Homo sapiens: one gene and its partners. The protein of the gene in region 1 interacts with the protein of each later gene in a biochemical or structural test. Each region holds a gene or a part of one and is shown on either strand. Other genes may lie near its edges. The genes, in order: MAPT, GSK3A, MARK1 and HDAC6.

The links.
Region 2: of the proteins of MAPT (region 1) and GSK3A, one has a biochemical effect on the other in vitro, tested with the Homo sapiens proteins (4 studies listed by BioGRID and IntAct).
Region 3: of the proteins of MAPT (region 1) and MARK1, one has a biochemical effect on the other in vitro, tested with the Homo sapiens proteins (4 studies listed by BioGRID).
Region 4: the proteins of MAPT (region 1) and HDAC6 form a complex in vitro, tested with the Homo sapiens proteins (4 studies listed by BioGRID, with this or other methods).

Annotation. Positions count from the first base shown.
Region 1 is NC_000017.11:45,987,447-45,995,927, forward strand, and holds part of MAPT (microtubule-associated protein tau), read left to right. Parts: intron 1-2,431; coding exon 2,432-2,629; intron 2,630-4,013; coding exon 4,014-4,140; intron 4,141-6,477; coding exon of another isoform or gene 6,478-6,531; intron 6,532-8,481. UniProt on the Homo sapiens protein: Promotes microtubule assembly and stability, and might be involved in the establishment and maintenance of neuronal polarity.
Region 2 is NC_000019.10:42,228,846-42,233,239, forward strand, and holds the end of GSK3A (glycogen synthase kinase-3 alpha), read right to left. Parts: intron 4,361-4,394; coding exon 4,265-4,360; intron 3,838-4,264; coding exon 3,651-3,837; intron 3,305-3,650; coding exon 3,212-3,304; intron 2,023-3,211; coding exon 1,949-2,022; 3' UTR 1,345-1,948; downstream 1-1,344. UniProt on the Homo sapiens protein: Constitutively active protein kinase that acts as a negative regulator in the hormonal control of glucose homeostasis, Wnt signaling and regulation of transcription factors and microtubules, by phosphorylating and inactivating glycogen synthase (GYS1 or GYS2), CTNNB1/beta-catenin, APC and AXIN1.
Region 3 is NC_000001.11:220,649,332-220,657,812, forward strand, and holds part of MARK1 (serine/threonine-protein kinase MARK1), read left to right. Parts: intron 1-1,288; coding exon 1,289-1,389; intron 1,390-2,654; coding exon 2,655-2,819; intron 2,820-3,766; coding exon of another isoform or gene 3,767-3,769; coding exon 3,770-4,021; intron 4,022-8,458; coding exon 8,459-8,481. UniProt on the Homo sapiens protein: Serine/threonine-protein kinase. Involved in cell polarity and microtubule dynamics regulation. Phosphorylates DCX, MAP2 and MAP4. Phosphorylates the microtubule-associated protein MAPT/TAU.
Region 4 is NC_000023.11:48,795,769-48,805,233, forward strand, and holds the start of HDAC6 (protein deacetylase HDAC6), read left to right. Parts: upstream 1-6,298; 5' UTR 6,299-6,374; exon of another isoform or gene 6,375-6,783; intron 6,784-6,894; coding exon of another isoform or gene 6,895-6,924; coding exon 6,925-7,017; intron 7,018-7,102; coding exon 7,103-7,231; intron 7,232-7,359; coding exon 7,360-7,448; intron 7,449-9,465.

The DNA of each region.
Region 1 (8,481 bases):
AAGCCATCTTCTCACTGCATAAACTGCACCCAGATCTTCGCCCATCCTTCTCAGTATTTCACTTCACCCATTGTTTACTGTCTCAATGACTGGGGAAATGTCTGGGGAAATGCTCCCGTAATTGCACAGTGGCGTTTTTCCTGGAAAATCCCACCATGGCTCTAGATAAGACCTATTTTTCTTAAAGGTATCTAAAATTTCCAGCATAAATTCTGTCTGAAACACCTGAATTTTAATCAGTACTGGAGCCCGGAGGGCATCTCCAGTTGCCACATAGCTCTGAGCATTCAGTGGTGTGTTGAGGGCTGCTCCCGGAAGTGCCTGCAGAGTCAGGGCTCCCCAGCCTCATCTAGTGAGGCAGTGGAAGGGCCTGTGGGGATTTGGAGAGCTGGCCTGGGTCTCTGAAGTGATAGTGACAGCTGCTTGTCAATCACGGTGCACATTTAGTGCTGGGGGCAGGGGGCAGGGAATACCAGCCTCATGCATGCATGCATTCATTTGTTCCTTCCTTCATTCATTCATTCAGTACACATGGGTACAACATCCCTGCCCTGGAGTTGCCCAGAGTCTAGGGAGGGGAAAGATCTATTACCCTGGGCCTCGGCCAGCTGGGGAGTGCTGCTGGTGGAGAGGGGCCGTGTGCAGCGAGGGAAGGAGGAGTCGTCAATACCCCCACCCCAGCTTTGCTTTCTTGTCATCAGCCCCAGGGCCCCAGCCTGTGTCCCTCCTCTCCCATTGCTACTTCATCTCCTGGGTCCTCCTTACCAAGCCTGACCACACAGAGGGCCTTGGCCGCTTCCATGGGGAATTGGAAAGCAATAAGATAGCATCCCCTAGAAGCCCAGTGAAGTCTGGGACAGGACCCTTCTCTGAGCTCTGACTTGCTCTTGGAAACACTTCGAGGCTTAGCCTCCCCACTTTGTTTCCCGAGAGTGTGACCTGTTCCCCTCCAAACACCCCCTTCTCCTCCAGGGCCATGCCCACCCGTCAAAATCCCCCACGGGCAGGACGAACTGTGGGTGTCAGTCACCATCTATCCTGCATCCTGGTTCCAGGGCCCCCCCCAGCCCCGCCTCCATAGGGACAGGCGTGCAGACACCCGTCCCTGGCTGCTTCCTCTTGTGGAATGGGTTCAAAAGTAAGCAGTGTTGTTTACACTGACAAACTGAAAAAAAAAGAAAAAGAGATAACATTGGAGGCTTGGCACAGTGGCTCATGCCTGTAATCCCAGCACTTTGGGAGGCTAAGGTGGGAGGATGTCCCCAGCCCAAGAGTTCTAGACCAGCCTGGGCAACATAGCAAGACCCCATCTCAAAAAAAAAATTTAATTGGCCAGGCAGAGGTGGGAGGATCACTTGAACCCAAAGGGTGGAGGCTGCAGTGAGCCGTGATGGCACCACTGCACTCCAGCCAGGGCAACAGAGGGAGACCCTGTCTCTAAAACAAACAAACAAACAAACAAACAAAAGAGTTAACATTGGCCAGATTAGGATTCACCAGATAGTGTTAATATTAGTTTGATTTGAGACTTTAATCAGAAAGCACATGTGTGGTGGGGGTGGGTGTAACCTAAGTCAGGTAGAATCTTTCCAACTTGGGGGGGGCACACTCCTGATTGTAGCCATATGAGTCTGTCAGTGTGGTGGAAGAGGCCATGGGTTAATGGGCAGGTAAAAAAGCACCTTGCCTGGAATTGAGTAGAAAGTAAGGCCCTTCAGACCCCGTGACACACTTGGGGACATTTTCTTGAGTAACATCCTAAGATTCATGTACCTTGATGATCTCCATCAACTTACTCATGTGAAGCACCTTTAAACCAGTCGTCTCCAAATTCAGGGGCACAGTAACATCCAACAGGCTGGAGAAAGAACGTACTAGAACTTCCATTCCTTTTTCATGTCCTCTTCTAAAAGCTTTGTCAGGGCCAGGCGCGGTGGCTCACGCCTGTAATCCCAGCACTTTGGGAGGCCGAGACGGGTGGATCACGAGGTCAGGAGATCGAGACCATCCTGGCTAACACAGTGAAACCCCATCTCTACTAAAAATACAAAAAAACGAGCCGGGCGTGGTGGTGGGCGCCTGTAGTCCCAGCTACTCGGGAGGCTGAGGCAGGAGAATGGCGTGAACCCAGGAGGCAGAGCTTGCAGTGAGCCGAGATTGCACCACTGCAGTCCAGCCTGGGCGACAGAGCGAGACTCCGTCTCAAAAAAGAAAAAGAAAAAGAAAAAGAACTGTGATTGGGGAGGACGGTCACTTTCCTGTTCTTACTGATCAGAAGGGATATTAAGGGTACCTGATTCAAACAGCCTGGAGATCACTGCTTTCAACCATTACCTGCCTTATTTATTTTTAGTTACTGTCCTTTTTTCAGTTTGTTTCCCTCCTCCATGTGCTGACTTTTATTTTGATTTTATTTATGTTTATGTTTAAGACATCCACACGTTCCTCTGCTAAAACCTTGAAAAATAGGCCTTGCCTTAGCCCCAAACACCCCACTCCTGGTAGCTCAGACCCTCTGATCCAACCCTCCAGCCCTGCTGTGTGCCCAGAGCCACCTTCCTCTCCTAAATACGTCTCTTCTGTCACTTCCCGAACTGGCAGTTCTGGAGCAAAGGAGATGAAACTCAAGGTAAGGAAACCACCTTTGAAAAGAACCAGGCTGCTCTGCTGTGGTTTGCAAATGTGGGGTTTGTTTATTTGTTTTTTAGCCTCAAAGACCTTTCTTCAAATGAGTTCTGGCATAGAAGCACCGTGTAAAATAGTTAGAATTCTGGGCAAAGGGGAAAAGAGAGCTGGGGGCCATCCCTCTCAGCACCCCACAGGCTCTCATAGCAGCAGCTCCTAAGACACCTGGTGGGACCTTGGTTTCGAAATCGCTACTCTAAGGCTGGGCACGGTGGCTCACACCTGTAATCCCAGCTCTTTAGGAGGCCGAGGAGGGTGGATCACCTGAGATCAGGAGTTCGAGACCAGCCTGGCTAACATGGCAAAACCCTGTCTCTACTAAAAATACAAAAATTAGCCGGGCGTGGTGGTATGCGTGGTGGTAATCGCAGCTACTCGGGAGGCTGAGGCACAAGGATTGCTTGAACCCCAGAGGCAGAGGTTGTAGTTAGCTCCAGCTTGGGCGACAGAGCAAGACCCTGTCGCAAAAATTGTTTAAAAAACAAACCCAAAATTGCTACTCTCATTGGGTTCCTTTGCCCATTCCTGATTTTGGCAAGAGAAATGCTTCCAGATTGCCCTGATCTGGGTAGGACAGCATCACGCCATAGCAACACTGCCCCGTGAGCTCACTGCCCCCTCAACTAGCTTGTGGTCCTTGGTTAATGTCAGTTTCTTTTTTGAGTTTGTGTTATGTCTAAGGGTCATCTGCTGGGTAACGGAACCCAGGGACTGCCCTAGTCCCTAGACTGTGCCATGCCCGACTCTGCCAGCTTTGTCAGTGATGCTGGTGCTCGCCTCCTCGGGTGCTCGCCTGGTCTGAGCACACCCAAGGAGTTCTTGAGGCCTTAGGGTTGTTTGCGAGAGAATGAAAGAACACGACCTAGCTCTCTTTAGCATCCTTGGTCAGGTTCAACACTGCCCCCAGGGGCCTCTGGTGGAGCCAACCACCATCAGCCAAATAAATCCATAATTAGAGTCAGAAAATGGATGTCTGCATATGTGTAGTGCACTAATGTCCTGCCGATGATTGACATGGAGTGGAGAGTGACCTGATCATTGCTGTGAGCTCTGCTGGCCTTGGCACAACTCATGCTGATAACTAATGCACACAGTTCCTCTGGGAGGAAATGTCCTCAGGGAACTTGGAGTTTGGGTGGGGATGTGGGTTTGTGTGCCCAGCAAGCCCTTGTGGTTGTAGCAGACACTAGTGGCATCTAGGAGGCAAAGGGTCACCCCAGTCTTAGCCACGTTTTGAGTCAAGGTGGCGGAGTGGGGCTGGTGTTGACTCTTGGTGGCAGTAACTTTTCCCAATGGTGAAAAACCCCTCTATCATGTTTCATTTACAGGGGGCTGATGGTAAAACGAAGATCGCCACACCGCGGGGAGCAGCCCCTCCAGGCCAGAAGGGCCAGGCCAACGCCACCAGGATTCCAGCAAAAACCCCGCCCGCTCCAAAGACACCACCCAGCTCTGGTAAGAAGAACGTTCTCTTGAATCTTAGAGGAAGCTGAAGCTCTCAGAGGTACAGCCTTCATTTTAGGAGGCCTTAGGCCACTGAGAATGAATAACCCCTGGCAGCTGGTCAGCAGCTTGCAGTTTACTAAGCACTGGAGTCTTCATTGCCTTCTCAGTCCTTTTGATTTCTGAGGCAAATGTTGAATCCCTACCTTTTTTTTTTTTTTTCTTTTGAGACAGAGTTTCGCTTTTGTTATCCAGGCCGGAGTGCAGTGGTGTGATCTCAGCTCACTGCATCCTCCACCTCCCAGGTTCAAGCGATTCTCCTACCTCAGCCTCCCTAGTAGCTGGGATTACAGGCACCTGCCACTATGCCCGGCTAATTTTTTGTATTTTTAGTAGAGACAGGGTTTCACCATGTTGGCCAGGCTGGTCTCGAACGCCTGACCTCAGGTGATCCACCTGCCTCGGCCTCCCAAAGTGCTGGGATTACAGGCATGAGCCACCACTCCCAGCCTGAATCCTCACTTTTTATCAATGAAGAAATTGAGGCTGATTCTGCAGCATGATAAAAAAAAATACAGAAAAAGGAAAAAAAAGAAAGAAATCGAGCCTCTGAGAGTTTGCTTGACTGAGTCTAACCAGCTCATTTTAAACCCGAGGAAAATGCAGTCACATGACTACTAAGTGGCAGCTCTCGGAGCCTCTCTGGCCCCAAGTCCAGGGTTCCATAGAGGCAGCCCCAGCATGGCATGTTTTCAGTCCCCAAATGAGACTCTGGAGACAAATGTCTCTGGAGACAGAGCAGCAGCCTGGATAAGTCACAATGGGTGACGTCACTCAGGGCTCAACCCCTGGGCAGCTTAACTTGCTAGGGACGTTAGGAGTCTGCTGCAAAACCTGAGGGTCTTAGCTGAGCAGTCACAGGCTGGGCCCGTTGCCCTGGGCTCCTGTGAGTAAAACCCAGTCAATTTTGAGTACCCAGTAAGGCATCCATTGAGTTATTTTGCAGCCAGGAGTGCTATTAAGAACAGTCGCGGCTGGGCGTGGTGGCTCATGCCTGTAATCCCAGCACTTTGGGAGGCCAAGGTGGGCGGATCACCTGAGGTCAGGAGTTCGAGACCAGCTTGGCCAACATGGCAAAACCCCGTCTCTAATAAAAATACAAAATAATTAGCTGGGCGTGGTGGCGGGCGCCTGTAATCCCAGCTTCTCAGGAGGGTGAGGAAGGAGAATCACTTGAACCCAGGAGGCAGAGGTTGCAGTGAGCTGAGATCGCACCATTGCACTCCAGCCTGGATGACAAAAGTGAGATTCCTTCTCAAAAAAAAAAAAAAAAAAACAGTCGTCCTCTTTGGGGATTAGGGACAGCCTGCCTGCCTGCCCGAGCACTTCTCTCTTCCATTGCCCCAGTGAAGTATTCCAGGCCCCTGGGTTTAGACTCTGCACCATGTAGGGGTGTCTGACCTGCACTTGCTCCTTGGTGGCACGGGCAGCCTATGGCACTTGCTGCGGGCTGTGACCAAAGCCTGGCCTGGATCTTGGATCTTGGTGACTCTGCTTCTCCCTGGCCTGAGGGAGCTGCCCAGAGCCTGCCCACCACCTGCTGCGTGTCTTTGCGGTGGCATTTCTCGCACACATGCCGTGCAGTGGCACCCCCAAGGATGGCCATTCACTAAGGCCCATTGTTTTTGTCTTTTCGCTTCGTGTTTTCTGGCCTGGTGTTTTTCTCATATACATGTGATCCAGGGATAATTCCCAGAATTTTGACAGGATTTTAAGTAGCGTTTGGATCCTGCTGTTTTTTTTTCACTTAACATCGGGCCAGTTGACTCACACTCTGTTTTTTGTTGTTGTTTTTTTGAGACGGAGTCTCACTGTGTCACCCAGGCTGAAGTGCAGTGGCACAATCTTGGCATACTGCAACCTCTGCTTCCCAAATTCAAGCAGTTTTCCTGCCTCAGCCTCCTGAGTAGCTGGGACTACAGGCACAGGCCACCACGCCCTGCTAATTTTTGTATTTTTAGTAAAGACAGGGTTTCACCATTTTGGCCAGCCTAGTCTCGAACTCCTGACCTCAAGTGATCCGCCCACCTCGGCCTCCCAAAGTGCTGGGATTACAGGGGACTCACACTTTGTAACAACCTGAAACAACGTGATGCATTTCCCTTTGGGTCTTACCTGCTCTTCGGTGGCTGCCTGCAGGTGGAGAGACCCTCCCCCTTGGGCCCCTCGACCTTGTTTCAGAATGGGGCCCCTGCTGGGCCAGCTGTGGGTGCCTGCCACGTGAAGGACTCATTAAGGCCCTGTTTAAGCCTGATGATAATAAGGCTTTCGTGGATTTTTCTCTTTAAGCGACTAAGCAAGTCCAGAGAAGACCACCCCCTGCAGGGCCCAGATCTGAGAGAGGTACTCGGGAGCCTACTTCGCTGGGAGCAGCCTCCCTTTGCGTGTGTGGCCATTCACTGGCTTGTGTTTCTAGAGCCGGGAGGACCCTTTTCTGCAATGCAGGGTTCACACAGGGTTCGCAGCCTGAAGATGGAGCAGTCCGAATTCTCTTCCCTGTGCAGTTTGCGCAGCTGTGTTTGTCTGATGGGCTTTCTAATCCTGTGTGCTCTCCTTGACTTCAGGGACAATGGCATTACAGGCATGAGCCACCATGCCTGGCTGTCTCCCTATGTTTCAGATGAAGACATAGGCTTAAGGAGGTCAGGTGACTTGCCCACGACCACTCTGTAAATAAGAGGCATGAAAAGTATTTGGAGCCACCACCACCAAGCCCACTGGTCACCCTGGGTCTCTGAAGTCAGGGAGGCAGGAGGATGGGAGGTCTGAGGAGGCAGAGAGGCTGAGCCTGGAGGCCCTGGAGGCCGAGGCCCCATCTGTTGTTTCCTTATGTGGAAAATAAGAGGCTTCGTTTGTCCTATTGCCACAGAGCGTACTACTTCAGGAACATCCAAGACATGGAAATCCGCAGGGCACGGTGGCTCACGTCTATAATCCCGGCACTTTGGGAGGTTGAGGTGGGAGAATCGCTTGAGGCCAGAAGTTCAAGACCAGCCTGAGCAACATAGTCAGACCCCGTCTCTATAAAAAACATTATTTTTAAAAAAGACATGGAAGTCAAATTCTAAAAACTGGTGCTGGCTGGGTGCGGTGGCTCATGCCTATAATCCCAGCACTTTGGGAGGCCGAGGCGGGTGGATCACCTGAGGTCAGGAGTTCAAGACCAGCCTGGCCAACATGGTAAAACCTCTACTAAAGAAATCTTTACTGAAAATACAAAAATCCAGTCTCTACTAAAATAAGTCTCTACTAAAAATACAAAAATTAGCCAGGCGTGGTGCTGCACACCTGTAATATCAGCTACTCGGGAGGCTGAGGCAGGAGACTCGCTTGATCCCATGCAGCGGAGGTTGCAGTGAGCCGAGATCACGCCATTGCACTCCAGCCTGGGCATCAGAATAAGACTCCGTCTCAAAAAAAAAACCACAAAAAAACAAAACAACAACAAAAGAAAACTAGTGCTTATTCGTCACTGGCCAAGCTGCCCATTGGCTACATGGGTGCTTCAAAGAGCTGCCCTTCTCCAGGTCTGGCCAGCAGGTATGTGTTACAGCAAATGCCTGGGGCAGCGGCAGGGGCATTGCTGCGGGAAGCTTCTGGACTTGCAGGAAAGCTAAGTTCTCAGACTGCAGGGGAGCTAAGCACACCTCGGCACAGGGTGAGGCCTGCGGTTCTCAGACTTCAGTCTTTGTGGAGCTTGAGAAAAATGAGGCTTTGCAGGTCCCACCCCTAGAGATTCTGCTCTATCCACTCTTGAAGGGGATCGAGAAATTTGCATTTTGCAACTCCCACTTTCCTCCTTGAAAGCTCCGGAGATTCTGACGCAGGGTTCCGTGGGCCACACTTTGGAAAATACAGACCCATGAGATAGAATACCAGACTGTTGAAGTGTAACGGGGGCCTGGGAAGTGCAGTAACAGAAGCAAGTTTGAGGGTAAAGGACACCCAGAGGAGGGAGGGACAGCATCTGCATGGAGAGGAGAAGAGACCCCCCAGCAGCTTCCAGGGTGTTGGAAGGGTGCGCTAGTAACTGCTATGCATGGCAGGTGGGGAACTGTACGTCAGGGCACAGCAGCATGAAGCGGTATGGCTCGTGTGGACAGCTAGGGACAGGCAGGCGTGGAGCAGGCATCCTGTTCTGAAGGCCAAATCCCACAGAGGAGCCAGGGTGCTGGCAGGAGCCCTGAACTAGCCGAACAGCTGAACAGCTGAACATTCACCCTGTGGGGAAAGGGTCAGAAGCGTCCAGGCTTGAGGGCACAGCTGGGTCTCGTCACTGCATCACCCTTATTT
Region 2 (4,394 bases), on another chromosome or scaffold:
TGATTCCTGATAGGCTCCTCCCAGGCCCCTGCAGCCCAGGGTGCTCAGGCAGGGCAGGCAGAATGCAGTTGGGGATGGAATTGTCCAGGAGGGAGGCCTAGACTTTGGAAGGCCTTGAAAGCTGGCTGAGTAGTTCCAGGTTGGGGGAGGGTCGTAACTGGTGTTAGATCTGGGCTCAAAGTGGGGTGAGTGGGAAGCTAAAGATGGTCCAGCAGAAGACAGGGCTGGACCTGGGAAGGGGTCATGGGGTGGTAGAAGGGTGAGGGACACCTCACTGACTTCACGGCTGACCACGTGTGAGTAGCAGGGAGGAAGGCGTCCCCAGGATCCCAAGGTCTGCCCCTCGCCCAGAACAGCCATCCTCCCCCTTATCCATCAGCTTGCTCTGTATGTTCATTCATTGATACTACAAACCAGGCGAAATCTGGGTGGTGTTGAGCAAGGAAGGGGCAGGGTCTGTCCTATCCCAGGCAGTGTAAAGATGCCCCTGGAGTGGGTTGAGCAAACTGGAGAGCCCAGACCCCACAGGAACAGTCCCTTCACTCCATCTGGGACATTTGAAACTCCTCCCTTTTTGTTCACCGGTGGAATCCAGTAGGGGGCATACCCATTGCTCCTCCCCAGGCCCCCTTCCACCTCTGGGGTGTCCTGGCCACACTCACTGCTCGGTGCCATGTGGAGGAGATAACATTTCCTTCCGCCCATGCCCCACTATCTGGCCCCAGCATGTTTTAAGTGAGGATAAAAGTCAAGTTCTCTGTCCCCACCTTCACAGGGTTGTCACTTCCCAACATCCCTAAGAGGTGGACCAGGTAGGTGTCCTGTTTAAGACTTGGAAATGAAGGCTTGGAATCTTCTAGGGTTCCATCTCCAGCCATGGCCACCCAACAAAGAGTCTACAAGCAGGCTAAGTTTTGGCCTGAGTGACTCCTCATCATCTCATGTCCCCCCAGACCCTAGAGCAGCAGGCAGCTTGGGCTAAGACAGACGGCCCATTGTTCAAGTCCTGACTCTTCTGTCACTTAAGCTCCATGGCCTTCCCCTCTCTGATCCCCAGTTGGCTCACCAGTTACTGGGAGGTTAATCCCTCCCTCCCTAAGCAGAAGCAGATGATTTATGCTGGGTCATGGAGCAGGCTCCTCCTAGGCCTCTACAGCAGATAACCCAGATGGAGCTCATCACCACACGTGCAGAGAAAGCCACGGTGTGAGAAGGTTGGGCACCTGAGCCAGGGCCTTCGGACAGCCCTCTGCCTGAGATGCAGCTCACTCCCGTCCCAGAACAGTCCCCCCACCGGAAGCCCCCACCACCTCAGCGGAAACAGGCAGCCGGACAGAAAGCAGGTTTTCATGCCAATAATTTATTGAACGGAGGTCTGTACACAGGCAAACCTTACTGTGGAAACTAAGACATCAGGAGCTCTCTCCACTCCCCTGGCCCTCCAGGGTGGGGTGAGGAGGGAGTAGACCTTGGGGGCAGAGGACAGGAGGGGAGTTACAGCTGTAGGAGGGGCGGGGCCAGGTTGGACGGTGCGAATCGACGTTTTCTTTAAGAAAAAAATTATAACAATCTATTTACACCCGGGGGCCAGGGAAGGGAAGAGGAGACGGGCTGGGCTGGTTCTATTTACAAGGGACACAGGAGGGGAGGGGGTCTGGAGGAGGTGGAGGTCTGGGGGAGGGGAGGGGGCCAAGGGGGTAGGAGGTCCTCATCCCCCCAACACCCTGTCCTTCTCTTCCCTCCCCACAACCAGTTAAAATCCTCTTAAAAAGCCCACCACAGGGGTGAGGCTGGTGAGGGAGGGACTGGAGGTGGGGACAGGGACTCATTTACCTCTGCCCTCTAGTCTAGGGGCCCAGCCAGGGCAGGAGCTTGATGGGCTATGGCCCCCCTTCCCAGCCCCTCTTGGGGCTCCCAGATGGAAGTGGAAGGGTGCTTGGTGGGGCCCTCAGGAGGAGTTAGTGAGGGTAGGTGTGGCATCGGTCGACTGCCAGTCTGAGCTGGTCGGAGTCTCAGTTAAAGCTGGAGGGAGGCAGGGAAGGAGCAGAGTTAGCCTTTGCCTTTCAGACACCCCTTCGCCCAACCCAAAAGTAGGAATTCTCTTGTCATAGATGCTACATTAAAAGTTACAAGCTGTTACTTTAGGTGAAGGGTTGCAAACTCAAGTGCTAAAGGGCCACGATAGTAACTGAGTGACACACCAGAGTGCCAGGCTCCATATAAGGCGGTGGCTGGGCTGGGCACAGTGGCTCACGCCTGTAATCCCAGCACTTTGGGAGGCTGAGGTGGGCAGATCACAAGGTCAGCAGTTCGAGACCAGCCTGGCCAACATGGTGAAACTCCATGTCTACTCAAAATACAAAAATAAGCCAGGCATGGTGGTATGAGCGTGTAATCCCAGGTACTTAGGAGGCTGAGGCAGGAGAATCACTTGAACCCAGGAGGCAGAAGTTGGAGTGAGCCGGGATTGTGCCACTGCACTCCAGCCTGGGTGACAGAAAAAGACTCCGTCTAAAAAATATAAAGGGCGCCCACTGTCTACTGTCAGTAGGATGGGCGGGCCCATTGCTGCCCAATCTGATTTTCTTCCCCAAGAGAAACAGGAAATCTGAATTTTTACATAAAATAGCCCCATTTTTAAACGTGGACACCATGGCCAGGCACAGCGGTTCACGCCTGTAATCCCAACACTTTAGGAGGCCAAGCGGGAAAATCACCTGAAGTTCAAGACCAGTCTGGCCAACATGGTGAAACCTCATCTCTAGTAAAAATACAAAAATTAGCCAGGCGTAGTGGTGTGTGTCTGTAATCCCAGCTACTCGGAGGCTGAGGCAGGAGAATTGCCTGAGCCCAGGAGGCGGAGATTGCAGTGAGCCGAGATCGAGCCACTGCACTGCAGCCTGGGTGGCGAGTGAAACTCTATTGCACAAAAAAAAAAAAAACAAACTTGGGCAACGAATTCAACTTTTTGTTTGTGTTCAGGCCAGACGTTATTTCTCTGGCTTTCCCATTGGCATTAAACACATTTAAACATTTGTACGCAAGAATACCCTCTAAAGGTGGTCATTCACATGTTGTAAGATGTGTTTCCTATGCCATCAAAATGTCGATGATTTAAAAATACATTCAGGAAACCCAGTCACTGAGCGAACAGCCCCACCCTCTCCAGGCTGAGAGATACTTTAACCCCCAGCAGATGGTCCCCACTTACCTTGTGAGGACGGGGTGAGGGTGGTAGTGCCCGCTGGGGACCTCAAGTGAGGAGGGATGAGAATGGCGTTGAGAGACGGTTGGATGGAGAGTTCTAGAAACAGGAATTGACATGCTAGTCAGGGTAGACTACAGCAGGGTTATGATGGGCACCAAATGGGAACCCAGCTATTGGGAAGGCCAGTTGTTTGTGGACACCTTCAGCCACAGACCTCTCTCAATGAAAAACCAGAAAAAGCTTAGCACAAGGCAGATCACAGTAAAGCACAACTGAAGCAGGTTCGATTCCCCCTGAATCTGGGAGTCATCTTTCCTGAGCCCCAGGCCTGCCTTGTACCCTGCCCTTAGCTCCCCACTCCTGCTTCAACACCAAGCTCCTCACAATCTTTGGCTGCCCCCCTACCCCGCCCCACTCCCCAGATCCCAGGCTATGCCCTCACCACCAGCACTGAAGTTGAAGAGAGGGGGAAGTGGGCGGTTGTTAGGCAGCTGGGTTCCCAGACATCGCAGTTCATCAAAGAAGCTGTGCGCACAGGCCTCTAGTGGGGAGAGCCTTGAGGATGGGGTGTACTCCAGCAGGCTAGAGCAGAGCGCGATGGCCTCTGGCGGCGTTCGAGATTTGAACACCTGAGGGATGGGTGCAGGGCTCATGAGGGTGAGATGCCCTGGACACTGGCATACTCCTGTTATCTCACTGCCACAGTGCCTGCGGCAAGTTATGACTGGTTGCTTCCCACACCCCCACCTTCCAAATGAAGAAACTAAGGCCCAACCACTAAGGAGAGGTCAGTTTGTATCGGGTAAGCAGGCAGCCCAGGTCTGGGACTATATGAGCCCTGCTGACCCTCCATAAAAATTGGAATCTTGAATTTACTTGTGGGTTCTCAACTTTTAAAATGCCATAAACTTTGAAAGCGGATGGATGTTATTGATCCCTGGATAACTCTTCAAATCCTCCCAAGCCGTGATTCTGAGGCTAGGTCCACAGAACAGTTGACCTCCAAGGGGGACCAGCTCTCAGCCATACTGCCCTGAGCCCCTAGCCCTGCCCCACCTTTGTCCAGGGGTGAGCTTTAATCTGAGGGAACTTGAACTCCGTGTAGTTGGGGTTCATCTCTCGGATTTGTTCCCGGGTTGGTGTTCCCAGCACCTGTAAAGAGAGGGAGGGGTCTGAGACAAGGGCC
Region 3 (8,481 bases), on another chromosome or scaffold:
TCCTCCCACTTAAGCCTCTCGAGTAGCTGGGACTACAGGTGTGTGCCATCACACTCAGCTAATTTTTTTGTATTTTTTGTGGAGATGGGGTTTTGCCATGTTGCCTAGGCTGGTCTTGAACTCCTAGCCTCAAATGATCTGCCCTCCTAGGCCTCCCAAAGTGTTAGGATTAGAGGCATGAGCCATCACAATTGGCCTACATGTTCCAAGTCTTACCTAAACATTTTAATAATCTTAGCCTGTTTTGCTACCATACTTTTATAGTTTTTAGCATATGCTTTTTATATAACTGGTGACAAAATTCCTTCCATCTAGGAACCTGCACTACTGAAAAATTTTAAATCTGTATTCAGTTTTGTTTATATGAGTTTTTTTCCTTCTTCAAAGTGAATTCAAGCAAGTATCTATTAAGTTTGTAGCCCTCATGATTCAACAATGTTTAGGTTGCTTATATATTTTAAATGCTGGGTTAGTCAAAAGTAGCAAAAATTTTTGTTCTGTTGGGTAAGGATTAAACAGAAGAGTATTATATCCACATTGAAAATCATTTCTGTATATTTTATTACTGGTGAGTAGTCAAGGATTTGGCAGGCACAACAGTGGGTTACAGGTCAAAGGTTGTGTGCATGGTAAGGAGAATTACCTGCCTATCCCTTTTTGCTTATTTTCTCTCTTCTCTCCAAGGCTCCTCAGACTTGGCCTGCCTTCTAGCTCAAACCTGAGACTCGAGGAAATATCTTCAGGGTGGCACTGCACACACCACTGTTGGTGGCCTCAGCTGGACATGCCTTTGATCCTGGGGCATTTAGTCTGCTTAATATTCCTGGTGGTTGAGAGAGTTTCCCAAGCAGGTGAAGAAAGGCAGCCCACTGGCTTCTGAGTGGGCATGCCATCTTCACTGCCCGAGGCTCCTGTTGGTGATGATACTTAGTGTGGAGTTGGCTTGCACTCCTTGTTACTTAGAGCTGCTCACACCCCTGCTCCTGCCCTTTCTCTACCACCAGCTCACAAAGGAGGGAGTGAATAGAAACCCAGCTCTCCTATTGCTTCCAAACTGCTGGCTGCTATTATAGGAGGATAAGCTAAAACTGTAATGAGTTCATTTTTGATGCTTTGTCTTTTACTTCTGAAATCTAAATTAGAGAGAGGCAGGGGATAATCTTGTTAATATAAGATTCTGATCAATTAAAATTCTGTGGATTTTTCTCAAAGTCAGCTTAAATACATTTCTTTGGCTTTCCACAAATATATTTATAATTTTTTAATTGCCTTTTTTTTATTCTTGAAGAACAATGTGTATTCTGGAGGTAGCATGGCAAGAAGGAATACATATGTCTGTGAAAGGACCACAGATCGATACGTAGCATTGCAGAATGGAAAAGACAGCAGGTAAATGCCACAGTGCCAAGTAGTAATACCTTTGCTGTTGTTCTGTGTTAGTGCCCTTGCTGAAATGCCTGCAGCCGAATGGGTCAGGAGAAAAGCAGTTATTACATGAAATAGTAAGATTGCAACCAACCGTTCTTAGTAAGACATCTTTCCTGTACCAGGATAGAAGGATGGGAAAACATTTAGAGAAAACAAGAAACAAATCTCTTTACCTGCCAATTTCTGAGTAAAATCTGATAGTAAATATTTTTCTATAACAAAGCAGATCATACCATCCTAATTTCATCTTCATAATTTGAATCTTATTCTCTTATGCACCTGCTGCCTCCTTCCCTTTCACTTCCCATCAAGTCATTGCTGTATCTCAATAAAGGCTTTATTTTTCTCCCTCTGAAAAAAATGTGACCATCTTATTTCTCATCATTCAGAACCACATAATTTTTAAAGTGTTTTATTTCAAATAATAATAAATCATATTATTTTTATTACTTAAAAGATGTGTCTTCTTTCTATCATGAGTCACAAGGACTACTCATCAATATAGTACAAAGACATGGAGCCTATTCTAATGAAATTATTTTCTTAGTACCACCTTCAGTCATTTCAGTAGTGTGTACAACCCATTCTCACATTTGTTTCTTCTCACTTAATAAGAATGTAAAGTAAGTGCTATTGTAAGGCATACAAAGAAAAATGTATCTTCTTTGGACATAAGATAATTGGAAATTGATTTCAGACTTATGATTTTTCCTATACTAAATTTTAATCTGCAGCTCCTTTAATCTGCAACAGTTAACCTATTGACTCATAATATGATCTAAAAGTGTTTTGATGAATCTAGAGATAATATTTTTGGTATAATTATCAATTCTGATTGTATGAATAATGGACAATGAACTACAGCAACATATCACACCAAACTGTGACTTTGGGGAAGTAAAAAATGACTCCAGTCATAATAATTTTATCTGAAACTATCGTATATCCACAAAAATAATTTTGTACTTTCTCACATTTACATACATAGTGTGTGTGAGATTTTTTTCATAGATGATAGTGATAAATTCACCCTGTATACTTTTCATAAGAATATTAATTGTTTTGTTAGTCATTAATAATGCCACTAATGTTAGTTTCTTTCAAATGTTTCAGTCATGAAAGGTGTTAGTCAGTTTAGATTTTTTAAAATATAGTTCTTAAATTTTAGTAAACCACAAATTTTCCTCTTTTTTTCCATGGTCTTCTCAACTGCTTTATGGTGAAAGCCTTACGGAGATGTCTGTGAGTAGCATATCTTCTGCAGGCTCTTCTGTGGCCTCTGCTGTCCCCTCAGCACGACCCCGCCACCAGAAGTCCATGTCCACTTCTGGTCATCCTATTAAAGTCACACTGCCAACCATTAAAGACGGCTCTGAAGCTTACCGGCCTGGGTAATGTGTTGGTTACATCTCATTTTGTTCATTAAGAGTTTCTAAAAATATAGCACCATGTGAAAATACATGATAGTCACCATCACATTAAGACCTTTCTAATAAGATTCAGTGTTTGTTATGGAGGAAAAATTGAATTGTAACATAAACTTTCTATGTACTTTGGCTGTTATTGGAAATGTTGCATATAACTTAAATCATTTTCTAGAGGAATTTTTTTAAGGATTTGATTTTACATCCGTCTATAAAGTTAAAAATTGCTGTTTAATTTGTCATTTAGGTAAATTGATTTTTTTATTATTTAAACCATACGAACAAACACTAGACTGTGAGTTGAGACCCGCAGATAATGATCAGGCTCAATTCCTTGTTCTTAATAAAACCAGGCTTCAGTTTTCCTGTCAATGAAACTGATGAACTCAAAGAGCCTGTTCAGATATAAAATTGTATAATTGTTTTTCTAGTATTTTTCTATTTTAAGATTTCCCAAATTCAGTACATCTGAACATTTTAACCCTCTGTTAGATTTGTTAGGCATATTGGTGGTGCCATGTGGTATTGTAGCATCACTGAGGCCTAAATTAGAAATAGGAAATTATTTTATTCAAAGCCTTTTTAATAAACAATAAAATTTGTGTTCAACATTGCTAAGTGGTTTCAGGAGAATATTAAAAAAATATTTGCAGTACTCCTGGTTTGGCATTCCTGATACTGAAAAGTATTTATCTTTGTGTCCCTGTTTCAGTCATTTCTTGATTTTTAGTGACCAAACAAAAGGTACCTAATTTCAAACTGAAATTTTACTCCAAACCCATGTCTCACATCTCTAATGTGAACAAATAAAGTAGGGCCAAAAGAAGTAGCCATAGCTATTTGTTTCAAGTTTTTAGCTTGAGTGAAAGGTTTTCTTGTCATTATTCTGAATGATATATCTTAATTTGTCCCAGCAGTACAACCCAGAGAGTGCCTGCTGCTTCCCCATCTGCTCACAGTATTAGTACTGCGACTCCAGACCGGACCCGTTTTCCCCGAGGGAGCTCAAGCCGAAGCACTTTCCATGGTGAACAGCTCCGGGAGCGACGCAGCGTTGCTTATAATGGGCCACCTGCTTCACCATCCCATGAAACGGGTGCATTTGCACATGCCAGAAGGGGAACGTCAACTGGTATAATAAGCAAAATCACATCCAAATTTGTTCGCAGGTCAGTACCAATGTACTGTCGTGTTTTGATTCCTCTAGAAATTATAAAGGAAACTAGACTTTTTAAAAAAATCTTTATAATAATTTTCTAAAATGGTTTCATAACATTTCATTAGAGCTGCTCTTTTACAGAGTTGGAAGAAAAAAATCTAGGAAGACATAAAGTATTTTTCCTTAAGAGAGAGAAAGGAAAAAATGGACAAAATGAGATTTTAAAAATCTGTAAAATAAAATGGAAAGAACAAAGACTTAACTTCAAAAATGTGTGTTTTAACAAAAGATTATTTTATATTTAAAAGCCTTGATTGAGGAAAAGAAATGAGTTTACATGTTTCCTTCAAATTTATCTTGACAATACTTTTAAATTGCTTACTAATAATATATAATTTACATTTTTTTCTTCTTGCATAAAAAGCCTACACACCAGAGTCACAGATCACTTATGCAATTTTACATCATAAAACCTTATCATCAAAACATAGTAAACACAAAATGAATACATGTATAGTAAAGGTCTAATCTACTTAAACAATACAATTATACTTTCTAAAAAGTAAGCATACTTACTATGCTTACTATGCATACGTGTACAGTGCACATTGATGATACAAGTTGCTACTACAATGCAGGCTGATGTGGATTTCATCTATTCCTGGTCCCACTAAATGCCTACTTAAGCCCTGCGACAGACAAAGCACTGTGTTAGGTGCAGAACAGAATCTAAAGATAGGTAAGATGGCATCTGTGCCCTCCAGATTCTTATAGTCTTGTAAGAAGCAGACAAACAACTAGCCATGATATAAAGCAGAACATGTGCTAAAAAGTGTGGGCAACATGCTGGATTCCAGAGGAAGACACAATTGTTTCTATCTAGGGAGACAGTGAAGGCACCCTATCATATAATCATTTCAGCTGAGCCTTCAATGATGGGTAAGAAATAATTATACTTGCTTTAAGAAATACTAATTAAATACTTAGTTTCCAATGTTATTAGTGTTTCTAGGATTTCAAAGAGTGGATGTGGAAAAGAGAAGAAGCAGCTTCAGTCTTACTTGCCTTGTCATGGAGCTATTTATAGGCTTGGTTCATACATCAGTTTGCCCAGTATCACATAGCTGAATTAAAAACTTTAAAGCCTCAAATGTAACATAAATTTCTAACCATATCAGTCAGTGACTTTGTACCATTGGGGCAATTACTATGCAGCATGAAACTTGCTAGAGAAAGAACTAAAAGTTCACCAACAGAGTCAGCATGGAAGTTAGATCATAGTGTTAGCCGGCCATCTGCAGGGTACTAGTCAGATTATCAGTAGTTTCTGCTTTTGGAATTTGTCTATTTAAGGCCATTTCAAAAAGCCAGTACTTTCTCATGGTTAAGCCAGAATTAATTTTAAAGTGAAGAAAAATAGGTTTATAGTTTAGTGCTTGATTACTAATTGTGCATTAAGCATTGTGCAAAATATTTCTCTTAACTGCAACAAAAATTTAGACTCTAGGGGAAACAGAGTACTTTGGAAAGGAAGTCGTGAGATAGAATGCCAAAGCAAGAAAGTGCCTTAGAGCTGGTCTGTTGGGAGGTTCTGATAAAGATTGCCATATAGTCTTTGAACACATATGTGGAGACCTACTACACGCAAGGCCCTTTTGTAGGAGCTATTGCTACGGCAGTGAGTGAGACTGATGGGTCTCCTGCCTTCCTGTGAGCAACTTACTATCTTGAAACATTCCACACATTTAAAGCGTTTCCCTTGCTTGGCTCTGGTTTTCTCCTACCTCACAGACTAGCTATCACTTCTCAGGCTCCTTTGCTGGCTTTTTTCAGATTCCCTTGCCTTTCCCCCAACCTCTAAATATTAGAATGCCCCAGAGCTCAGTCTTTGGACACATTTTTTTCTCTGGTTTTCCTTACACTCTTGGTGATCTCAGTCAGGCTCATGACATTAGATTCCGTCCTGTATGAACAACTCCTAACTGTATCTCTAGCGCACATCTTTCTGCTGAACTGCAGACTCATATCCAACTGCTGCTCAGCCTCTCCACTTAGATACGTTATAGACTCTGAAACAGAACATGTTCAAAAGTAAACTCTCGTTCCTCTTCCCAAACCTGTCCCTCCCTCATTCTTCACCGTGTTAGAAATTGGCAGCCTTGTCCTTACAGTTGCTCAGACCATAAGCCTTGGAGTTATCCTTGACACTTCTTTTCCTCATACCACCTCAGATCCATTGGCAATTTGTGTTGGCTTTACCTTCACAGCATTTCCAGGATTTAACTGCTTGTATCACTCCCGCCACTGCCTTCATACTCTGAACCACTATTCATCTTTCACTTCCTCATAGGTCTCCTAGTTTCTGTCCTTGTCCTCCTCTTCTGTTTCAGCAGTGTCATGTCAAGTCTGATCATGTCACTCTTAAATTTAAAGCCCCTGATTAGCTTTCACCTTGCTCAGAATACAATTCTGTGCCCTCACTGTGGCCTGTGGGGCCTTGTGTAACCTGGCCATCCATTTCTGCTCTGACCTCTTCTCCCACTCTTCCCCTTGCTGCTTCCACACCAGCCACACAGGGACCAGACTGTCCTCAAGTACATTAAGCACTGCTTTGGCATTGTGTACCTGCTATTCCTTCTGCCTGGAATTCTCTGCCCTGAATACCTGCATGGCTCACTTCTACACCAAACCTTATGATTTTCTAACCATAGCTCATTCTTATATAGGGAACAACCCAGTTTGTTCAGTTGAGTATATATTGCTATCTGTAGGTAATTGTTTTTTAAGTGTTAAGTGTTGGAGAGCATGCTGTGCTGCATATGCTGTTAGAGCCAGCTGCACCTTCTGTAGCTCCATCTGCCTCCTACCATGGCTACTTAAAGCAGACTTCCTGGGCTCTTTGAAACAATTGCCAAGTAGCAGAAATTTTTCCAATGTTCCTACTGGCATCCAGGTAGGCAGGAACAGGGTATGGGTCAATTGCTATTTCAGTCAATTACAGCAGAGGAGATAGGGTCTAAGGGACATTTCACTCCTAATGTTTTAAGTTTGGCAGCTGTGGTATAGGTGTTTGCTAATAGTGAATAATAAAGCATAATATAAATAGGACAGAAAAGTCCAGTGAGATTTTTGTCCCTTCCTAAAGGAATTTTGTCTTAGCAGTGGGAGTCAACAGCATTACTGTCTTGCTTGCCAAGTTGGTATACTGCCCATCTGTGTATATCAGTTCATCTACATGTAACTGAAAATGTACATTTCACTTTCAGCCTGCTCAAAAATGTTTTATTTATTTCAATGTGCTATAATAAAAATGGATTTGTATAGATGGCATTGAATTTTTATTATACTTCCCAATGAAAATGCCAGTTATTAAAAATAGAAATTTAAGAAATTACATTTGAATGTGAGAATACATTTTAGTATTCTTTTAAATTCAGATAGAAAAATTTTTTTTTTCATAATATGTTTGTTAAGAAAGGCATGTATTAGTTAAAGACCCTGAGAGGCATAAGGCGTTCATATTCTTAAGAACAATTTAAAATTTTAGGGCTTGGTATGTGGGTGTGTTTTATGAATTTGGGGGATGGGAGAGTACCACTGATTTTATTCTTATTGCATTCGTTTTACATAAATAATAGAAATGTTTCTGGAATGGCTAAAACATTAAGACAGTATTAACTTAAGGATTCAAGTTGGTGATTTTTCCCACTATTTAATAGTATTTTACCCTTTATCACAAGATATTTAATTACCTTTAAAAATAACAAAGCATTAAAATTTTGGTAGACTTCAAAAATATTAATTACATGCAACACAGAACAATTAGTAGTGTTTTCCTGGTTTTATTTCGCAGGTGGATATCCAGGTAAGGTCAGTGTTTTTATTTAAGATTGAATCCGTGTTTTTAGACTTGCCTACATGGATAGGCTGTTAATTTGCTGTGATATTTTATCATGTGCATGAATTGTTAGCATAACTTCTAAAAGAAATTGCTTATTTGGAAATTGGTGTTTATTTGCTAACTACAAGGTTAATGTATATATTTTCTAAATTGAGCGACTACTAGAATTATACATAATTACAAATTTGAAGTTGAATCTTGCTATTGATAATTATTAAATAGTTTTAACTTTAGATTAAACTAAACCAAAAGATAAATTATGACTTCAAATGAATCATGGCTGGGAATTGGAAGATTATGAAAAAAAAATTTCAAACTTTCACCTCATATTGCCTCTTGACAAAAATGAGTAGACGCTCAATAAATGATAAATTACATGCGGTTATGGTGAAAAATATGAGAAATAGTCTCAGACTGACTAGTAATAGAAAACTGTCATGGTAGAAGTTTGCTCAACAAGCTAATTTTAAAATAATTTTAGATATAGGTTTTCTTGATATATTTTTTACTTTTATCATTAAATCTCAACCTTCACTTTGTTTTGAGGGATCCAAGTGAAGGCGAAGCCA
Region 4 (9,465 bases), on another chromosome or scaffold:
TATTATAGGTAAGCAGCTGTCCTCCACAGAACACCAGCCCATCAGCTAGCGGGCATTCCAGCTCCACTAAGTAGCCTGCTGCAGAATCACAGGAGTCTATTATGCTCACTGTGGGCATTGTCCACAACAGCCCTGATCCCATAAAAGACACGTGTCTGGCCTCCCCTCAGAAGCCCAGCCCTCACACCCTGCAGGAGGCCCCATCCTCTAAAAACCCCCTTCAGAACCTGTGCTGGACACATGTCTGGCCCCACCTTGTTCAGGAGCCCCGGGCCTCACCCCCATAAGTATAGCTCCCCCAGCCTGGTACAGAAGACTAGCTCTGAAGCTCTAGGGGAGCCCTTCATCTAATTATCGACAGGAAACCCATCCTGATCCTGTACAGGAATGCCAGCGCTTACCCTGAATAGGAGGAACCTCTGCCTAACCCCAGCTAGGGACATCTGGACTAAGCTGTAAGGAAGCCCCTGCACACCCTGGACAGGAACCCTTGTCCTGACCATCCACACAAGCCTCAGTCTCCCTATACGAATCCTGTCTTGACCTCAGACAGGAACACCTTTGTACTCACACTGCTGCAGTCCTGTCCTCCAGGTAGCATTTTAAAAACACCTCACTCACAATAATCTGAGTAGTAAACCATGGACCCAGCTCTGTCTTTACAGAAATCCCTGTCCTCAACCTCTTCAAGGACCCTGACTGTGTGTGGAACCTCTTGCCTTCATTGTTGACAATGATCCCTGATGTTGCCCTGCACAACAATCCATGACCTCACACCCTATCCCATAGAGTCCACAGGAACCCATGATCCAACTCTCAACATGAACCTCAGTCTTTAACTTGTATAGAAAACCACTTCCTGACCTTATGGCAGGAATGCCTGTCTTGACCATTTACTTTAAGCCCTGACCTCAGCCTATACAGGCACCTATGGCCTCACCTGATACAGGACCCCCCCTTCTCACTATATAGGTCGCATTTATTGATGCTGCACGAGGCTCCTGGGCCTTACCTTGTATTAGCTCCACTACCCTGACCCTCTACAGCAGGGGTTCCCAACCCCCAGGACACGGACTGGTACTGGTCCATGGCCTATTAGGAATTGGTCCACACAGCAGGAGGTGGGCAGCAGGCAAGCAAGCATTACCACCTAAGCTCCGCCTCCTGTCAGATCAGCAGTGGCATTAGATTCTCATAGGAGCACGAACCTTATTGTGAACTGTGCATGCAAGGAATCTAGGTTGCGTGCTCCTTATGAGAATCTAACTACTGCCTGATGAGCTGAGGTGGAACAGTTTCATCCCCAAACCATCCCCCACCATCCGTGGAAAGACTGTCTTCCACGAAACCGGTCCCTGGTGCCAAAAAGGTTGGGGACCGCTGCTCTACAGGAAGCCTGACCCTAAAACTGTTCCAGGACTTCTGACTGGTCTCTGCAGAAAGCCTTTGTCCTGAACCTCAACAGAAATCCTTTACTTTTACAGTAATTTATTTACAGGAATCTCTGTAATTTACAGGAATCTCTGATCTTTATAGGAACTCCTAGCTTTACTCTCTGGAAATACACTGCTTACCCTGAACAGGAAGCTTAATGTGATTCTCTATAACAGCCTTTTCCCTGGCCTTGTCCCAGAAGCCCCACCTGCACCCTGTACAGGAACCACTGCCCTGACCCAACAAAGAAACACCGACCTGAATCTCTGAAGGGGCAGTGTCCTAACTACACAGAGGATCTTTGTCCTGAACCCGCACAGGAACCTCTATTACCCCCAGCAGGAACCTGTGCCCTGAGCTAGCACAGAAAATCCTGCCCTTACACTCAACAGGAACCTTTGATTTGCCTCTTTAGAGTAATCCAAAGAATGAACCAGTATAAAAAACCTCTACACTGTACAAGAACCTCTGTTCTGTACTTGTTAAACAACCCATAATCAGAATCACCATGAATACCTGCCTGGAGACTGTACAGGAACCCCTGACCTAACCCCCAATGGAATCACCTGATCTGTCTGTCTCTAGTAACACAGCTCTGATCCTGGACAGAAATACCTGGCCTGAGTACGCTGTGATCCTCTGGCCTGGCCGTCTACAGAAAACCACTCTCCTGGCCTCAAAAGGAACACCTAACCTTAATCTGTATGGGAAAAAATGCCTTCACAGTTTTCCCTCTCACTTTACAATGTCTCCAACCTTTGTATTTCCCTGCAAACCTGCCTTACCAGGTAACAGAATCATTCTCCTGACCCCAGACAGGAAACACTAACCTGACCCAGAGATGCTCCTACCCCTACACAGTAAGAGTCCCTGTCTCAATGCTTTAAAGAGAAATTTCTATAGCAGTGCTGTCCAATAGAAATATGTGAGTCACACGGGTAATTTTATATTTTCAATGTAGCCACATTAAAAAGAGAAAAAAAAGATAAAATTATTTTCAATAACATCAATATACTTAACTTTACCCAATATATTCAAATATTATTTTAACATGTAATCAATATAAAAATTACTGAGCTATTTTAAACTTTTTATACTGAGTTTTGTGATCTGGTGTACATTTCACATTTATAGCACATCATCTCAAGTTAGACTGGCCACATTTCAAGAGCAGTAGCCACACGTGGCTGGTAGCTACCATATAGGACAGCATAGGTCTGTGGAGTCTACGGAACCCTATAGCAGACACTGCTATAAGCTCATTGAGACCTGTTCCTGTTCTTCCTGAGCTCACTCTACCTATTCCAGCCTCCTCTGCAGATAGATGTGGGCACATGACAGAGTTCTGACCAATGGAGTATGGGCAAAAGTGACATATACCAGTTCCAGGCCTGACCCATAAAAATCTCTCATGCAATCCTCCATTTCCTCTCTTTCCCTGTCTACCAACTGAAAACCAACTAACTCCAAGGACCTAGAGGAGGACAGAGTCACAAAATAGAGTTTGCCTGGGTCCATGAATGAACAGTAGTAAATATTCAGATTGGCTTTTGAATGAGCAAGAAATAAACATTTATTCGTTAAGCCCCTGAAATTCTGGGTTACAGCAGCTAGGATAATTTAGCCTAATTAATAATAATCTCTCCCCCTCTCTCTCTCTCCTTTTTTTTTTTTTTTTTTTTTTTTGAGATGGAGTCGCCCAGGCTGGAGTGCAGTGGTGCAATCTTGGTTCACTGCAACCTCCGCCTCCCAGATTCTCCTGCCTCAGCCTCCTGAGTAGCTGGGATTACAGGTGTATTAGCCCGGCTAATTTTTGTAGTTTTGGTAAAGATGGGATTTCACCATGTTGGCCAAGCTGGTCTCAAATTCCTGACCTCAAATTATCTGCCCACCTAGGCCTCCCAAAGTGCTGAGATTACAGGCGTGAGCCACCACGCCTGGCCAGTAATTTTTTTTTTTTTTTTTTGAGACAGGATCTCACTCTATTACCCAGGATGGAGTACAGTGGCACAATCTCGGCTCACTGCAACCTCTGCCTCCCCTCCCAGGCTCAAGCGATCCTCACACCTCAGCCTCCCGAGTAGCTGGGACTACAGATGCACACCACCACACCCAGCTAATTTTTGTGTTTTTTATTGAGATGGGGTTTTGTAATGTTGCCCAGCTGGTCTCAAACTCCTGAGCTCAAGCAATCTGCCCTCCTCTGCCTCCCAAAGTGCTGGGATTACAAGTGTGAGCCATTCTGCCTGGCCAATAATAATCTCTTGACCGAAATCTAGACACCTGATCTCACTGTCTATATGAACACAAGCTCTGAACCTATACAGAAACACCTGTGACCCAGTACTGGCCCACCTGATCTCTTTGTAGGAAGCTGTCATAACATAGGTCTAAGAAGCCCCATCCTGGCCACGAATGGTGGCTCACACCTGTAATCCCAGCACTTTGGGAAGCTGAAGCAGGCAGATTGCTTGAGTCCAGGAGTTTGAGACCAGCTTGGGCAACATGGCGAGACCCCATCTCTATAAAGAAAAAAAAATTAGGCAGGCATGGTGGCATGCACTTGTAGTCCCAGCTACTTGGGAGGCTGAGGTAGGAAGACAGCTTGAGCCCAAGAGGTTGAAGCAGCAGTGAGCCGTGTTCACACCACTGCACTCCAGCCTAGGCAACAGAGTGAGACCCTGTCCCCTGTATCAAAAAACAAAAACAAAAAAACAAAAAAACAAAACCTTAATCCTTAACTTGCACAGGAACAGGAACCCATAGTCTGGAGCTCTCTAGAAACCCCTGCTTGATTCAGTAAAGGTACAATATAGAAACCATAGGAATCCCTGTCCTCATTCTGTCCAGGAACATTTGGAATGACCCACCAGAGGTACACTAGAAGTGACCTGACCCTGCCCATGAATCCCTGTCCTCACACACCTCACACAAAAGGAATACCTCTCCTTAGGAAAAAAGGCCCCTACCCTCAATCCTGCAAAAGAATACCAGCCAGATAGAGACCAAGGCCTGACACTACAGCACAGATCGGCAAACTATGGCATTCAAGCCAAAGCCAGACTGTGGGCTGTTTTACATTTTTAAAGGGTTGTTTTTTAAAAAGAGAAAAAAAGAAAAATGCCACTGAGACCGTATGTGGCCTGCAAAGCCTAAGATGTTTACTCTCTGTCCCTTTATAAAGTTTGCTGACCCCTGCTCTTCAGAAACCTCTCTTCTGATCCAACAGAAAAATGGGCCTTGACCCTTTGCAAGACTCCCTACTCTATCAGGCTGCAGGTATCAGAACTCTAGAATTTTTTTGTAGTGTGTTATCATTGTATGTGTTTTCTTTGGTGAGTGTAGGGGTTTAAAGGTCTTAGGTCTGCAACTCTTTTGCGCTGAGACAAAAGATAGGTTCACGTAGGAGGGGTGAGAGGGAAGAGGCGGCAGGACATCTTCAAGAGGATCAGAGGGCAAAGCTACTGGGCGGTGAGACCGTCAATCTGTCAGTCTGATGCAGAACCCCCGGACTGCTTATCTCTCCGGTCCCAGCTTATAGCCCGGTAGGAAATGGTGGAGAATGAGACAGGGAGATTAGGAGGACAAACCGGCCTCCTGCAGAGCTGACATTTAGACATGGAGTGGGAGTTGCGGGGGAGAGGGGGTGCCTAGGGACAGCTCCCCAGACGCACACACACTTTCTATTACTGCTTGGGAGCAGTGGTTACCCGTTGGAGGGGGCAGATAGGGAGAGCTGCTGCCCATGAGAACTCCCATCCTCAAGGCCATTCTGGCCCTGGGCACTATTATTATCACAACTTTCCAGATGAGGAAACGGAGCACAGAACTGTTCAGCAACTTGCCCAAAGTCACATGGTTAAGTCCCGTAACCTCAGTTTCCTTATCTGCAAAGCAGCCTTAATAATGGGAACTACCTCATAGAATTGTGGTTTACAACGATGCCTGTCACATAATACTTGCTATCATTACCATTCCCTGCCCCCACTAAGACTCCTTCCACTCAGAATATTGCGGCAGAATATTAATAGCTAATATTCGGCCAGTGTTTCCTGTGTACCACCATAGTGAATATTAACTCGGAAAATCCTCACATTTAGCATCGTCACCACGCCTATTTTGGCCGCCACCACCAACGTCCAGTGGCAACCTCGCTCTCGGCCCAGCCACAACCAGCCCGCCCGCGCTACGTCATCACGGCGCGTCGCGCGGGAAGTCGCGGGGAAAAGGTAAGATGCCCCTTCCTAATTCCCTCGCTTCCTTGCTTGCTCTCCAGACACCGCCGACCCGAAGGGCTCCTAAGTGACTGGACAGGGACGGAGGGGCGGCGGCTATGGCATCCGGGACGACAGCGACGATAGCCGAGGCAAGAAAAAGCTTGCACCGCAGCCCTGTCGGGAACCGCCGGCGCCTGCCTTTTACGTAGGCGCAGCACAGCTGGCGTAGCACGCCGACGCACCGCCCCGTCGCCTGTGAGCTCGCGGTGTGGCTCAGCCCAGCTGGCGTAGCACGCCGACGCACCGCCCCGCCGCTTGTGAGCTCGCGAGAGGTGTGGCTCGCGCGAGGGGCGCGGCCTTGAGGCACGGTCCCCTCTGGAGGCGGGATCTGGGCGGGCAGTCGAGAGACGAGGCCCAATGGAAAAGAAAAGCCTGAGCGCTCGCGTCCCCACAGGTCGCCAGAAACTTGGTGGAGCGAGCCAAGGGCGGAGTTTGAGAAAGGGGCTGCGTCCAATGAGTGGAGCGGTGAGTACAGCGCGTCGACGGCGGAGGCGGGAAGGGGGCGGAGGCCGACCGAAGGCGGCTAGGGACTGGCTGAAGAGGGTTAGCGAAACGTTAGCGGTCGGGTCTGGGCAGGGGGTGGAGCTGGTTGAAGGAACGGGGCAGTCCCCTGAGGAGCGGGGCTGGTTGAAACGCTAGGGGCGGGATCTGGCGGAGTGGAAGGTACCGGTCCGGCCCGATAAGGGGTGGAGTTAAGTGAATCGTTAAGGGTGGAGTCGAAACCGGGGTCGGGGCCGGGGCCGGCTGAGTGAAAGGGTGGGTGATTATCCCGGGAGATAGGCCGAAAGGGCAGGTTCGTGAAGGAATGGGGTCTGGGCTGGGCTTAGAGGGTCTGGGAATGGGGCTTAGGAGAGTAGAAGGGGCGGTGATTGGTTGGAAAGGGCAGGCCCTAAGACGGACTGTGTGAGCCCGGGGGCTCATTGCTCCGTGAAAGGGCAAGACCAGGGAAAGAGAATCGTGTAAAAGGGGTGGAGTCTAGCGGGCCGGGCGGGGCCGGGTAGAATGGCCACCTGAGTGGAGGGAGAAGGCCTGAGAGAGGCGGAGTTTGGAAGGCTGTGGAGAATCAGATCGCGTAAGGAATGGAATCTAATAGAGGGGGCGGAGCCTGGAAAAGGGCAGAGAGGTGGGGTCCTCAGGGCACACTAGCCCCCTCACATACCCACGCTCCTCCCCCCACCCCCAGAACCGCGGCAGGGGCCAAGCCTCCTCAACTATGACCTCAACCGGCCAGGATTCCACCACAACCAGGCAGCGAAGAAGTAGGCAGAACCCCCAGTCGCCCCCTCAGGACTCCAGTGTCACTTCGGTGAGGCCCTAGACCCGCCCTGATGAGGGGGAGAGGGAGCAAGTTGGTCATGCCCTGGACTCTGACCCTTCTCTCTGATTCACAGAAGCGAAATATTAAAAAGGGAGCCGTTCCCCGCTCTATCCCCAATCTAGCGGAGGTAAAGAAGAAAGGCAAAATGAAGAAGCTCGGCCAAGCAATGGAAGAAGACCTAATCGTGGGACTGCAAGGGATGGTGAGCAGGGCCTGGCTGCAGTTTAGCCTCGTATGACAATCAAAACCCAAAGGTTCCCCACCCTGGACAGTTCCCTCTGACTCAGGGCCTAAAATGGATCTGTGTCTCCTTTTTTTTTTCCTCTGCAGGATCTGAACCTTGAGGCTGAAGCACTGGCTGGCACTGGCTTGGTGTTGGATGAGCAGTTAAATGAATTCCATTGCCTCTGGGATGACAGGTGAGGCTGGGTCCTCCAGGCTGTCTCCAAACCACAAAAATACACACACTTAGAGCCCATTAGCAAGAATAAATCTTTTCTTACCCCAGCCTGGATACTGGAAGCAGATGATTTGGGGAGGTAGGGCTCACACTTGAAAGGGTTCTTTTATGTAGCTAACAAACATTTATTGAGTGCCTATTGTGTGCCAAGAGTTGGTGATACAAATGTACCAAACAACAGACAGGGGTCCTTCTCTAGGAGCGGATTGATGAGTAGGAGGGCAGATCATTAAACAGCCAACAGCAGTATGAGGTGTTTAATGAAGACAGACTTAAGACCAGGGGATTCAAGGGTGTATAATAGAGGATCCTAAACTAGTATCCGGGCTTCCCAGAAGCCTTTATAGAGGAAGAGACGTTTGTACTGAAACAGAAGGATGAAACCTCCCGTTTGCTTTACTTTTCAAAAAGAATCAGCAAATCCTTTTGGCTATATGTTCAAAATATATTCACCATCTGACCTCTCCTCACCACCTCCACTGCCACCATCATCATCACTCACCTAGACTTGCAGAGGCCTCCTCCCTGGTCCCCTACTTCCAACCTCACCTCTATTATCTGTTCATGCAGCAACCTAAAAAAATATGTATGAGTTGATGTCTTTGTTAAAATACTTTAAGGAGGCCAGGCATGGTGGCTCACGCCTATAATCCCAGCACTTTGGGGGGGCCAAGGCAGGTGGATCACTTGAGGTCAGGAGTTCGAGACCGGTCTGACCAACGCGATGAAACACTGTCTCTACTAAAAATACAAAAATTAGTTGGGCGTGGTGGCACACACCTGTAATCCTAGCTACTTGGGAGGCTGAGGCAGGAGAATCGCTTGATCTGGGAGGCGGAGGTTGCAGTGAGCCGAGATTGTGCCATTGCACCCCAGCCTGGGCAACAAGAGCAAAACTCTGTCTCAAAAAGTAAAAATAAAAAAAAAAAAAGTACTTTAAGGGCAAACTGTTGCCCTCAAGGTAAAGTCCAAATTTTTCATCCTGGCCTCAAAGGTTCCACATGATCTGGCTCCACATCACTTTGTGACCTCATCAGCCAATCCTTCTCGCCCACACTACTCCCCTTGTTCTTCCAACATGCCAGGCACCCTCTTGCCTCTGGTCTGTACCCTGACCAACCCCTTTCCCAGAGATTCTTTTCGGTCTTCTACTCTTCCAGCTGCCTTTCACATCCCAATGAGACTTTCTCAGAGAAGGTTTTGCCTGGCCAAACCCTACCCCAATACCTGATCTTATTTTCCTAGCCCATGACATTGTTTGCTAATTATCATACTTGTGTGTTTACCAATTAATATCTATATCCCTTATCCCAACCTAAGACTAACTTACTATGGGAAAAAGACTTCTTTTATGGAATACCTATTTACCATCTATTGAGGAGCTAGGGATACAGCAGTAAACAAAACAAACAAAAGCCTGTGTCTTCAGGGTAAAGGGGGAAGACAGACAATAAATAAACAAAAAGTAAATGATGCACTGTGGTAGAAAGAGCAGTGTTATGAAGAAGCAGTAAAGGGAGGATAGTAGGAGAAAGTACAGTGGAGGAGACTTCAATTTTAAATAGGCTGGTCAGGGAAGGCCTCACTATTTGAGCAGGGATCTGAAGAGGTGAAGGAGTAAGTCATGGAGACAGTTGGAGGAAGAGTATTCTAGGCGGGGGTGGGGGGGCCAGCTAGAGTAAAGTTCTAGGGCTGGCTGAAGAGTATTTGGTTCAACTGAGAACCAGGGAAGAGACCAGTGTAGGTGAAGCGAAGCAAAGGAAAGAGGGAGGGGTAGGAGATGGGGTCAGAGAGGTGATGGAGGACAGATTGTTTAGGGCCTTCTGGGCATGGGTAATACTTTGGCTTTTACTCAGAATGGGATGGGAGCCTCGAAGGGACATGAACTGATTAGGGTTTTAACCAGTGTCTAGCTGCTATGCACAGAAAGGACCGTTGAGGTGGCGAGGGTCGAAGCAGGGAGGCCGAGGAGATGC